2 separate regions of the Homo sapiens genome follow, and region 1 is linked to region 2. The links come from fine-mapping of genetic effects on gene expression. A gene starts in region 2. The other region holds a variant in brackets. All regions are shown on one strand. Distances are from middle to middle. Region 1 holds the start of IKBKE-AS1 (IKBKE antisense RNA 1). Region 2 holds the start of IKBKE (inhibitor of nuclear factor kappa B kinase subunit epsilon).

The links. PIP is the estimated chance that this variant, and not a neighbour inherited with it, causes the effect.
Region 1: its variant is fine-mapped to the expression of IKBKE in whole blood (TOPMed, PIP above 0.99).

The regions. Positions count from the first base shown.
Region 1 is chr1:206,494,112-206,499,433 of GRCh38, reverse strand. It overlaps IKBKE (inhibitor of nuclear factor kappa B kinase subunit epsilon), which reads right to left. Exons shown (of 22, transcript NM_014002.4): 22 at 2,545-3,322. The coding sequence ends at 3,289. IKBKE-AS1 (IKBKE antisense RNA 1) reads left to right here and starts at 1,706. Exons shown (of 2, transcript NR_172918.1): 1 at 1,706-1,840. RefSeq lists an enhancer at 1,612-1,761. The variant G/A (reference allele first, on the strand shown) is at 3,302.
Region 2 is chr1:206,467,152-206,472,518 of GRCh38, reverse strand. IKBKE (inhibitor of nuclear factor kappa B kinase subunit epsilon) reads right to left here and starts at 2,043. Exons shown (of 22, transcript NM_014002.4): 1 at 1,821-2,043; 2 at 1,274-1,363. RefSeq lists enhancers at 2,667-2,976, 2,496-3,133, 3,808-4,671, 4,672-5,367.

The DNA.
Region 1 (5,322 bases), 27 kb before region 2:
CTGAGGCAGGAGAATCGCTTGAATCCGGGAGGCAGAGGTTGCGGTGAGCCGAGATAGTGCCATTGCACTCCAGCCTGGGCAACAAGAGCAAAACTGCGTCTCACATAATAACAATAATAATAATAATATTGAGTTTTAGGCACTTTATGCACATAGCTAATCTATTCCTACCCACAACTTTCCACTCACCACACGGGCACCGAGGAGTAGTATCTTTAAAATACCAGTTGGACTTGACCTAAAACCTCTCTGTGGTCCTCTGGGGTAAAGTCCAAGTTCCTCAGTGTGGCCTGCAAGGACCTTTTGGACTGGCTCCTCCCTTTCCACAATACCAGCATCCTACTTTAACCTACTCTCCAGTCATATAGAAATACTAGTAGCTCTTCCCATGCCTGTGCCACTGCTGCTCCCACGGCCAGGAATGCCTCCCACACCTTCTTTGCTAGGTATCACCTGCTCACCTGCTAAGACCACTTTGGATTCACCTGTTCTCAGTCACTCCCTGACACTTAGGAAGTTTCCCAGCCTGACCTAAGCACCCTCCCCTGTGAGGATGGTGACTCAGGACCACACTGGATGTTTGCATTCCTAGCATAGCACCTCCTCCATGATGGGAAGCTATCTGTGGCATACCTGTCTTCCCCCATAGAGGTGAGCTCCCCATGAGCCAGAAAGGTGGCTTAGTCACCTCTGTAGTTCCAGCATCCCGTGGGCCTGGTACACTGTAAGGGCTCAGATCATGTCTGGTGAACTGAATGGGCTCTTTTCATTTTAAGTGTTATGTTAGGAATCACTGCAGAGAATGGAGAGGTACATTAAAGAGGTCTTCAGACACCTGAGGATCTTATGGGTTGTTCTGGGTCTTGGTCCAGTTCCTCATTTCCTACTGAGATGGAATCAGCAGCTCTGCAGAACCTCAGATCCAGGGAGGCACTGATGTCAGCAGCTCTGCCTTGCATAGAAATGAACTGAAGCCACTGGGCGTGGTGGCTCACGCCTGTAATCCTAACACTTTGGGAGGCCAAGAAAGGAGGGTTGCTTGAGCTCAGGAGTTCAAGACCAGCTTGTGCAACATAGTGAGACCTCATCTCTACAAAAAATATAAAATTAGCTGGGTGTGGTGGTGCACGCCTGTAGTCCCAGCTACTTGGAAGGCTGAGGCAGGAGGATTGCTTGGTCCTACAGTGAGTAGTAGTGGTGATCGCTTGATCACTACAGTGAGTCGAGGCTGTAGTGAGCCAAGATTATACCATTCCACTGCAACCTGGGCAACAGAGCAAAACCCTGCCAAAAAAAAAAAAAGAAGGAAAATTAAAAAAAAAAAACAACTGAACTGAAGCCTTTGAGTGAGTTTGTCCGCCACATCTCATAGGCTTTGCTCATGAGATCATACAGCCTGGATCATATCATCTCCCAAAAATCTGTATTTGGCATTCAGGGATCCCCTGGCTCCTTCACTGAGCTCCACCAAGCACATGGGGTTTTGCAAGCTGTTGCTGCCAGGGAAAACCCATTGTGGGACTTCCCTGAAGGGCCACTCATGGGCTGGAAGTGTTGGCCAGAAATTCAGGCCAGCAGAGTGGACGAGAGGTGGTCTAGTACCCAGGAACATCAAGGCGGCAGCTGGTCTCTGAGGCCCCAGGACTTGAACCCCTGGGCTTAAGTGACTCCACGGGCTTGAGGCCCAAATAACAAACACAAAGCCACTTGGACCTGATGCAAGGAAACAACCTCCAGCCACCTTCCCCCAGGCCTTTAGAGTGCTGGTCTTTGCACAGAGAAGCACCACAGAGGACAGAAGCCTCCAGGACTCACCCTTCCCCATTTCTGGCCCTACCAGGTGAGTAGAGTGGCCTCAGGATGTGGGGGCTCCCATGAAGATGGACAGGAAGGATCTCTGGGGTTATTTCCAGTCAAGCATAATGCTGTCTTCACGCTTCGAAGCACACAGTGGGGCTTCCCACTCGTCTCTCTCTCCTACTGGGGCTACCTTACTGCATTTCCCCTTCCCCTTCCTTCACCCACCCAGGTAGGTGGGTAGTCCAGCTCTGGTTTATGGGAAGGCTGGAGGTAAATTTGCAAGCAGTTTGCAAAAGTCAGAATGCCTTGCCCAGGCACCACTCTAGATTCTAGACAAAATGAAGGAATGCTTAAAATAACCCATAATACTATTCAAACCCACTATTTAGGACATAGCCTAGGTTTTGAATAGCTGTGGAGATGGGAAAAAAGCAGTAGCCACTTAGATGGTGGGTTTGAAGGAAAAAAAAAAAGAAGAATACCTTTCTCCCTAAGTTCCAGGCCCCTCACACAGCTTTCCAAATGATGCGGGGGCAAGAGAATGGAAGGAATGGGAAGGCACCCCTTGGGTTCTTCCTTGAAATTAGGGCCCATTTAGGGGAAAGGCAGAAATCAGGACATGACCAATTCCCACCCCCATTTCCCAGCACTTCTCACAGATCCCCGCCCAGACCCCACTTGGTTGCCAAGCACACCCAGCTGAGAGCCCTGCCTTGCAGACACAGCCCAGGGAGAGCCACCAGAAACAGAAGCAAAGGCCACATTTATTCCACTTCTTGAAGGTGCAGGCCTTGGACCTGCCCAGACTCACAGTCCTGGCTGCATGTCCCAGGACCAGCTGGAGCCTCAGAGAGTGAGGGAGAGCCAAAGGGGCCCCAAGACACTGGCACTGGCCTTGGCCACCCATTTTCTCAACTTTAGGCTCAGTCAGACCAAGCATAGAAAGAACAGGAGGCTCTCTATGTTGCCTGAGGCTGGCAGTGGTGACCCTCAGAAATCACAAGGGAGCGGAGAGAGCTGTGTTCAACATGAAACGCTTGAAGAGGAAGGAAGACTGTGATGAGGTCGTTTGACCTACTGCCCTGGGGAAACCCCAGGAGGCCTCCTCTCCTGTTGGCTAGGGAGTGAAGTCCTATAAACCAGAGGGAGTGGGAAGGCGTATGAGAGCTTCTTCTCCCCACGGCCCAGCCATGGGCATGGAGGAGCAGTACCTGAGCCTAGAGAAGATAGAAAGGTCAGCCAGGCAGTTGCTGCCACACTCTTTCCTGTGGGTCCCAACAGAGGTGGCCTGGTGCCCAGTCTCAGCTGTGCTGCTTCCCAGGGAGAAAGGCAGTGGAAGGTAATGCTGGCGACATCCTGGCCAGCAGCCAGGAGGGAGGTAGGCTGATGTGATGGGATGGGATCTTGCCCTGGGTTGGTCTCATGGTGCAGAAGAGCAGTGTTGGAATCATTCTAATGCTTCAGGATGCCTCATGTGCCCCATGGAGCTCAGACATCAGGA[G/A]GTGCTGGGACTCTATTTAGCCTACAAGAAAAGGTACAGGCTAGCAGTGCCCACCTGTTGGAGAGGCCTGCAGACCACACTCCAGGGCCCAGCACAATTAGCTTTCAAGAACACTGAGCCATTCAAGTCCTCAGCTCTCCCCTTGTAGCACCCTCACTCCCCGACAAGAACCCACTGGCTCTCGCCTCTGACTATATGTTGGAATCACTTGGAAAGCTCATGCAAATCCTAACCACAAGCTGTACCCAGAGTCTCTGGGGCAAGACCCAGGCATTTGTACGTTTAAAAGCTCCCCTGGTGATTCCAGTGTGTAGCCAAGGTTTAGGAGGGGAAAGGAGTTTAAATGGATTCATTTGGCTCTTTGGCTACAGCTCTGAATAAGGAAGTGAAAATTCACTAAAATAAAGTTTTGAGCTATCTGCAAATAGATGACATATCACAGCAAGAGCAATTTTTGTTGGCACTAAAATTAGAACTTCCTGACCAAGAGGGCTGTTTTGGAAAATCCTTCCAAGAAGCTGTCAAATGTCCTCTTTGTGGGTGTTTAAGAGGATGAGTTCTCTTGCTGGAACAGGACAGGGAGGAGATTCCTCCCTTACCCAAGGACCCTCTGAAACTCTGGGGACAAACCACAAGCTCTGCTCCTGGTTTCCCTACCTCCTGGCCCCAATTCTAGTGTGAGACTGGAGTGGCCTCTGGGGAAGAAGTAACATTTAGTGAGCCCTTCCCTCCACACCCCCCTATGCGCAAGCACCTTGCATATCTCATTTTTTTAAATCCCTATGTCAACACCATGAGGTAGAAATTATTACTCCTGTTTCACAGGGGAGGGAACTGAAGCTCAAAGCTGAACACACCTCCCAGGGTCACGCAGTTGGTAAAAAGCAGGGTCAGGATTGAAATCCTGTAGGAACCTCTGCTGACTCTACCCTGCCATTGGTTCTCAGACAGGAAAATGACAGACACGAGGATGACAGGCAGGAGTGGGAGATGCGTGCACGTGTGTACATGTATATAAACAGGGCCGCTGGCCTTCAGGGCAAGCAAGGACCATCCTTTATCCTGAGGTTATCTCTCTTTGGTGGTAAAATGTGTTTTATAAAGTAGGGTTACTAGATGACAGGGCTTTTTTTTTTTTTTTTTTTTACTTCAAATGTGCTTACTTGGTTATGTGAGCAGCTGGTAACTCTGTTGTTCTCGAGTTTTCTTTTAGAACTATACTGGTACGTAGCCGGGCGCAGTGGTTCATGTCTGTAATCCCAGCACTTTGGGAGGCCAAGGCAGGCAGATCATCTGAGACCAGGAGTTTGAGACCAGCCTGGCCAAGATGGTGAAACCCTGTCTCTACTAAAAATATAAAAATTAACTGCGTGTGGTGGTGGACACCTGTAATCCTGGCTACTCAGGAGGCTGAGGCAGGAGAATTGCTTGAACCCAGGAGATGGAGGTTGCAGTGAGCCGACACAGTACCACTGCACTCCAGCCTGGGTGACAGAGTGAGACTCCGTCTCAAAAAAAAAAAAAAAAAAAAAAAAAAAAAGAAAGAACTTTTACTGGTATGCAAAATCTCAATCTCAGAGTCGGAGCCCTGTTGCGTTCCCACACCAACCTCTCATGACCCCTCAGCACCCCAAGGAGGGGAGTCAAATCAGGAGATGATCCTGCAGCCCCGGGCTGGCCCATGAGCATTGGCAGGAGGGACGGGAGCCCCACAAGGCCAGAGAAACACCGGCCTTGGGCATCGTATCCAAGGTGTCTGCGCTGTGGCTTCCTGGGGTAGCACATGGGGATGAAAACAGCACCTATCCTGAGGATGGCTGTGATTCAAGGAGGCATCTGGGGCAGCTTGAGCACAGAGTACATATGGAGTGCAGAGCTGGACACAGGCACAAACCCCATGCCTCCAGGCCCCCATCTCCCTGACAGCATGGAGGCTCACATTTTAAAGGCTGTAAGTGAACCCTACACCTCCTGAGGATGTCAACTCATTTGTGGAAAATGCCTAAGCTTCAACAGGGCTT
Region 2 (5,367 bases):
TATAGGGGAGGCAAAATTCATCATTCAGCCATTGGGAGAATCTGAAACCCCCTACAACTCTGTTTCCCATCTTTGTCCTCATCTTTTCCCCAAAGCCTAGTTCTCCTAAAGCAATTAGTACCAGAAAGTGTATCCTCAGAAGTTAAACTCAATTTCTCTTTGAAAAATAAGGCCAGTGCTGGCCTTTTTGGGATACCTGGGGACAGAAGCATTAGAAGGGCCACCATCCTTTAAATACTTTCTTTTTCCTTTTTCTTTTTTTTATTTTGACGTAAGGTCTCACTCTGTCATCCAGGCTGGGGTGCAGTGGTACAATCATGACTCACTGCAACCTCCACCCCCTGGGCTCAAGCAATCCTCCCAACTCAGCCTCCTGAGGAGCTTAGGACCATAGGTGTGCACCACCACACCTGGCTGTCTTTTGTATTTTTAGTAGAGATGGGTTTTTGCCATGTTGCCCAGGCTGGTCTTGAACTCCTGAGCTCAGGCAATCCGGCCACATGGGCTTCCCCAAAAAATTGCTGGGATTACAGGTGTGAGCCACCATGCCTGGCCACTTAAATACTTTTAAATAACGCTAGACTAGAAAAGGCATCTTCGTGTTCTAACATCTTACAGGTTCTCAAACTGAGGGTTGCCATGCCTGGAATCCTATGTTCCTTCGCTCTGAACTTTTTCTCTGTGTAATCTTTTTTAAAAATGCAAATCCTTGATAATGTCATTTCATTGAGCCAGAGGCCCCTTGAAGAGATCGGTGGTCAACTCCTAGTTTCAGATCAGGTAGGAGCGGACATTACACAGAAGCAACTGAGGTACTGAGAGGCTTCCTGAAGACAACACAGTAGCTCAGCATGAATGAGTGGGTCTGGTTTTCCCCGCTGAGGCTGGAGGCAGCCAGCAGGTCTGGGGGCTGGGGCTGGGGTTGGAGCACAGCAGGCTGAAATCAAGGCCAAGGGCTCTGATACTGGGGCAAGGAACAGCTCAGGACTCTGGGATAATAGGCAGTGAGGTGCAAAGCGCAGACCCCCAGACAAGCGGTGTGCCCCTGGATTCTGTGCCCGGGAGCTCTGGTTGTGGCACATCTGGCTTAACTCTGCACGCTCTGCAGATCCTCCCCCCACCACCCCAAGCACCTGGTGCAAAGAAGGGCTCAGTGGCCCTCAGCCAGTGGTTGGATGAATGAGCAGTGGACAGTGAAGCATGTGAGACACCACCCACCCACCTCTCCCCTCCCCTCCCTCCTCAGGGCTCTGCTGTGGCCAAGTGCACTTACCCCACACTCTGAGCTGCCCTGAGTCAGGCAAAGGCTCTTCCTGGCGAGTGTATGTTATGCTTTCTGTCTGTGGCACGTCCAGGAGCTGAGCTACACCGGAAAGAGGAGGGCGGATGAGAGGCGCCCCTCAGTGCAGTTGCTTCTCAGCCTCCATCAAAGGCCGCCGGCCCTAGCCCTTTAACCCTTTCCTGTTTGTCACCTTCCCCCACAGGGCTGGGCTGGGGGTTTCCAGCTCTATTCCCAAACTGTTCAGGGAGCCTTTCCCAGCGTCTCCTACTCCTGAGACTCCGGCCAGGGAGAAAGACCCCGGGAAAGGTGAGGGCAGGCGCTGGGTGCTGATCGCTGGCTTTGGGTGTTGGTAAGCAGAGCCCAGGGAGGGCTTGTGGTTGGCCCGTGGTGGCTCACCTCCATGCCACACACAACGCTCTATGTGAGAGCACCGCTGCCAACAAGCCCACACCCCTGCACCCGGCTGAGCTGCCCTGCAGCTGCCCCTTGTCTGGCCCCTCATTCCACCCCCACCCCCCTCCGCACGCTGCACACTCACCCCATCTCCACTGCAGGGGATGCAGGCTTGTGGGACTGGGTGACACCCCCAGAGCTTTCAGGGCTCACTGTCATTCATGAGCAGTGTTCTTAGCCTCCTGGTAGCCAAGGGCCCCTAGGACCCACAGGCAGGGCCAGTTGCAATGTCTGTGCCACCCCAGGAGCTGGGACTAGTGGGTTTCTTCCCTGCCTCCTTGTGGCGGTGGGACACCAAGCTCAGCACTGAGTCCTGGCTCTCAGCTCTCTCGCACTTCCTGATTTCCGTCTCTCGCTCTCTCTTTCTCTCTTAAAGAGACAGAGGCAACTCGGTGCAGCCACCAGCTCAGCAGAAAAGAGAAAGAGGATGCTCTGAGTTCCCAAGGGTAGGCAATAGGACCAGAGTGTGAGCCACAGAGAAGCCAGGAACTGGGGCCCTTCTGGTAATCTTGATGGGCAGCTGGGTGCTGTTTTGGCATCTCCCACAGTTCACTGGAGCAGGGAAGTTCAGGGCTCTTCCCAGAGTCAACAGAGCAGGTTGGGCAAGTTAACTAAGTGGAAAGCTGCCTGGGAAGTCCATGCTCCCACACCCAGGAACCCCAAGGAAGTGTGGGAGCTATGCCGATCCAGTCCTAGAAGTTGGATCTGAGTCACCTTCCCAGGAGGCCTGCAGAGGTCCGAGAGCAAGCGCGGGGACCCAGCTGATGCCTTCCAGTGTGACCTGAGCACACAGCATGCAGCCCCTCCCAGCCAGCTCACTCACCCGCAGAGTAACAGCTACTCTGTGGGTTGATTGGATGACATGGATATATTTGGAATTGTTTGGGAGCTTGGAAAGCATTTTACAGAAAGGCATTGAAGGCATGGAGGCCCACACACTTCAGTAATTTACCCATGCTCTTCAGAGACTGCTGGGGCTGGCACCCAGGTGCCAACTTCCCAGCCAGGACTCGATGCCCCACATCAAATGTCCTAGGAGGCTGGAGGGGTCTGTCCTGCTCTGGTCAGCTCAGAGATGGCAGTTGGATATGAAATGGTTAAAACCAGGAAATTCCATGTTTCTATAGAATGTTGGAGGGACTTTCCCATGGCCACACCTGGTGGTTTCCTCCGCCAGCCCCACCCCTCCCACAGTGACACTAGAACAGGAGCAGAGCTGAGAACTGCCTAGTGCTCAGATAAAGAGAACTCCCCATAACACCTCCAGCTGGAGGAGTTGCTGCAACTTCTCACATCAGGACCAGGAGGAATGTGCCTGAGTGCCTGAGATCCTCATGTTCCACCCAGTCTTCCCAGCTTGCTTTTTTTTTTTGAGATGGAGTCTCACTCTGTCACCCAGGCTGGAGTGCAGTGGCATGATGTTAGCTCACTGCAACCTCCACCTCCTGGGTTCAAGTGATTCTTCTGCCTCAGCCTCCCAAGTATCTGGGACTACAGGCATGCACCACCATGCCCGGCTAACTTTTTGTATTTTTAGTAGAGATGGGGTTTCACTGTGTGGTTGGTGAGGTGGATTGAACAGGTTGGACTTGATCTCCCAACCTCCTGATCCACCTGCCTCAGCCTCCCAAAGTGCCGGGATTACAGGCGTGAGCCAGTGGCTAATTTTTTGTATTTTTAGTAGAGATGGGGTTTCACTGTGTGGTTGGTGAGGTGGATTGAGCAGGTTGGTCTAGATCTCCCAACCTCCTGATCCACCTGCCTCAGTCTCCCAAAGTGCCGGGATTACAGGCGTGAGCCACTGCACCCAGCCTAGTCTTCCCAGGTTTCTGCCTGCCTGGCACATGGGAGAACTGCACATCCTAGTTACTTTGTGATAGGGGGAGCATGTGAGTTCCCCACCAAAGCATTTATTTCCTGATGCAAGACCCTCCCAGAACTCTGCTTTCTGGCAGTGTGATTCTGTTAGTCTGGGTCCTTGAGTGACTGTCCTGAGCAGAGTTCCCCTGCTGGTCCACAAGGGACATTGGCTTTGGTGAGAAATCAGCCTTTGTTGCTTTAGGGCACCGAGGTTTGCTACATAACTTAGACAATCCGTAATGTTTACCCACTTTTTTCCCTGATGAACCTGCTGGGTCCTCACCAGCACTCTTACTTTCCTCTCTCCGTCAATCTCTTTCCCAGCATATTTAGCACATTCAAAGGAAACTACCATGTGTCTAGCACCTGCTATGAGGCAGGCACTGTGTGCTCAGGATGTAAAGGTGGGCATCCCATCAGGAGCCTGGAGGTCCAGGATGGCATGGCAGATGCTATGAGTGGCAGACGCGCAGCGGGGAGGAAGGTGATCAAGAAGGGCTTTCCAGAAGGGTTGCTTGGCCAGACTTTAGGAAAAGGGGAGTTGGGCAGAGGAGAGGGGGCTGGGGGAATGGAATTCCAGGCTGTGGGCACATGTGCAGAGGCACAGAAGCATGAGAAGAGCCGGACTGAGGCTGTGAAAAGGGAGAGAGGTAGAGGTGGCCTGGAGCCATGTGCCGTGACAGATCAAGTTTCCTTGCGCATCCTCTGTGAGGTCACATCCTCTGTGTGGACACAGTGAAGCAATGTCTTGCCTGTGCCCCAGCCGGGCAGCACAGCCGGTTGCATCCGAGAAGGTGCAGGGGGCTGGCGGGCTCCAGAAGGGAAGAGGAAGTCTGTAAGAGTCCCCACCACGTGTTCCCAAGTGGCTCTGAGGAGTCCTAGAAATAGAAGTGGCAATCCAAGGGTAGTGCAAGGACCAGAGGTGGAAGAGGGCGGCCCTTGACAGCAGCTGTCAGAAAGAAAATCTCATGTGACTTCTACAAAGAGGCTGAAAGTATAGTAAGAAGGGCAGGGGCTAGCTCCATTGCCATGGAGGTTTGAGTTCAGATTTTACCACCTACTGTGGATGACCCTAGCACGTCACTCGACGTTTCTCATAGGGCTGGTTTGAAAGTAAAATGAGATGAAGCTCCTGGCACCTGGTCTGCTCTGAAAAGATATTAATTTCTTTTTCCACCTCTAAGGGGCCTGAGCCAGTTTTTCACAACTGACTCGCCGGCCCAGTGCCTTAAAGGGGAGGGGAAAGGACTCGGGTGCTGGTTGGGGTGCATATGGAAGAGGCTGGGGGGCATTGCCAGGCCATACGTTTTTGCTGTGCTCAGTCACAAGGGCAAAGGGCTGAGGGACGAGGTCTCAGAGCCCAGCTCTTTGTCACCTTCAGGGGTCAGCTCTGGCTAGGAGCTTTGGGTGCAGAAGGAGGGACAAACACTGCAGCCAATCTTGCTGCTATGGCCCCAAGCAGTGGGACAAGCTGTGAGGCAGCATCCAGGCCACTGAAGGAAATCGGCGCCGGTGCCAGCGTCGTCTCTCTTCGAGGAAAAGCAAGTGTTTCTCTCATTGTCTTCACTCTTCAAACCTCCTCTGCACTGTTCCCTCCTACACTGTCAGCTAAGGACCTTGCCTTAAACTTCGCTTAGATAAAAGAAGCAATCAGAAGGGAACCCCCTCATTTCCTCCCCCACATCCACTGCCTGCCCTGTGTCTGTACTCACCTGCCTTCCCTCCCACGCGACAGCAGGAAGTGCCTCTTCTTGAGCCTCTTCTAGTGGCCA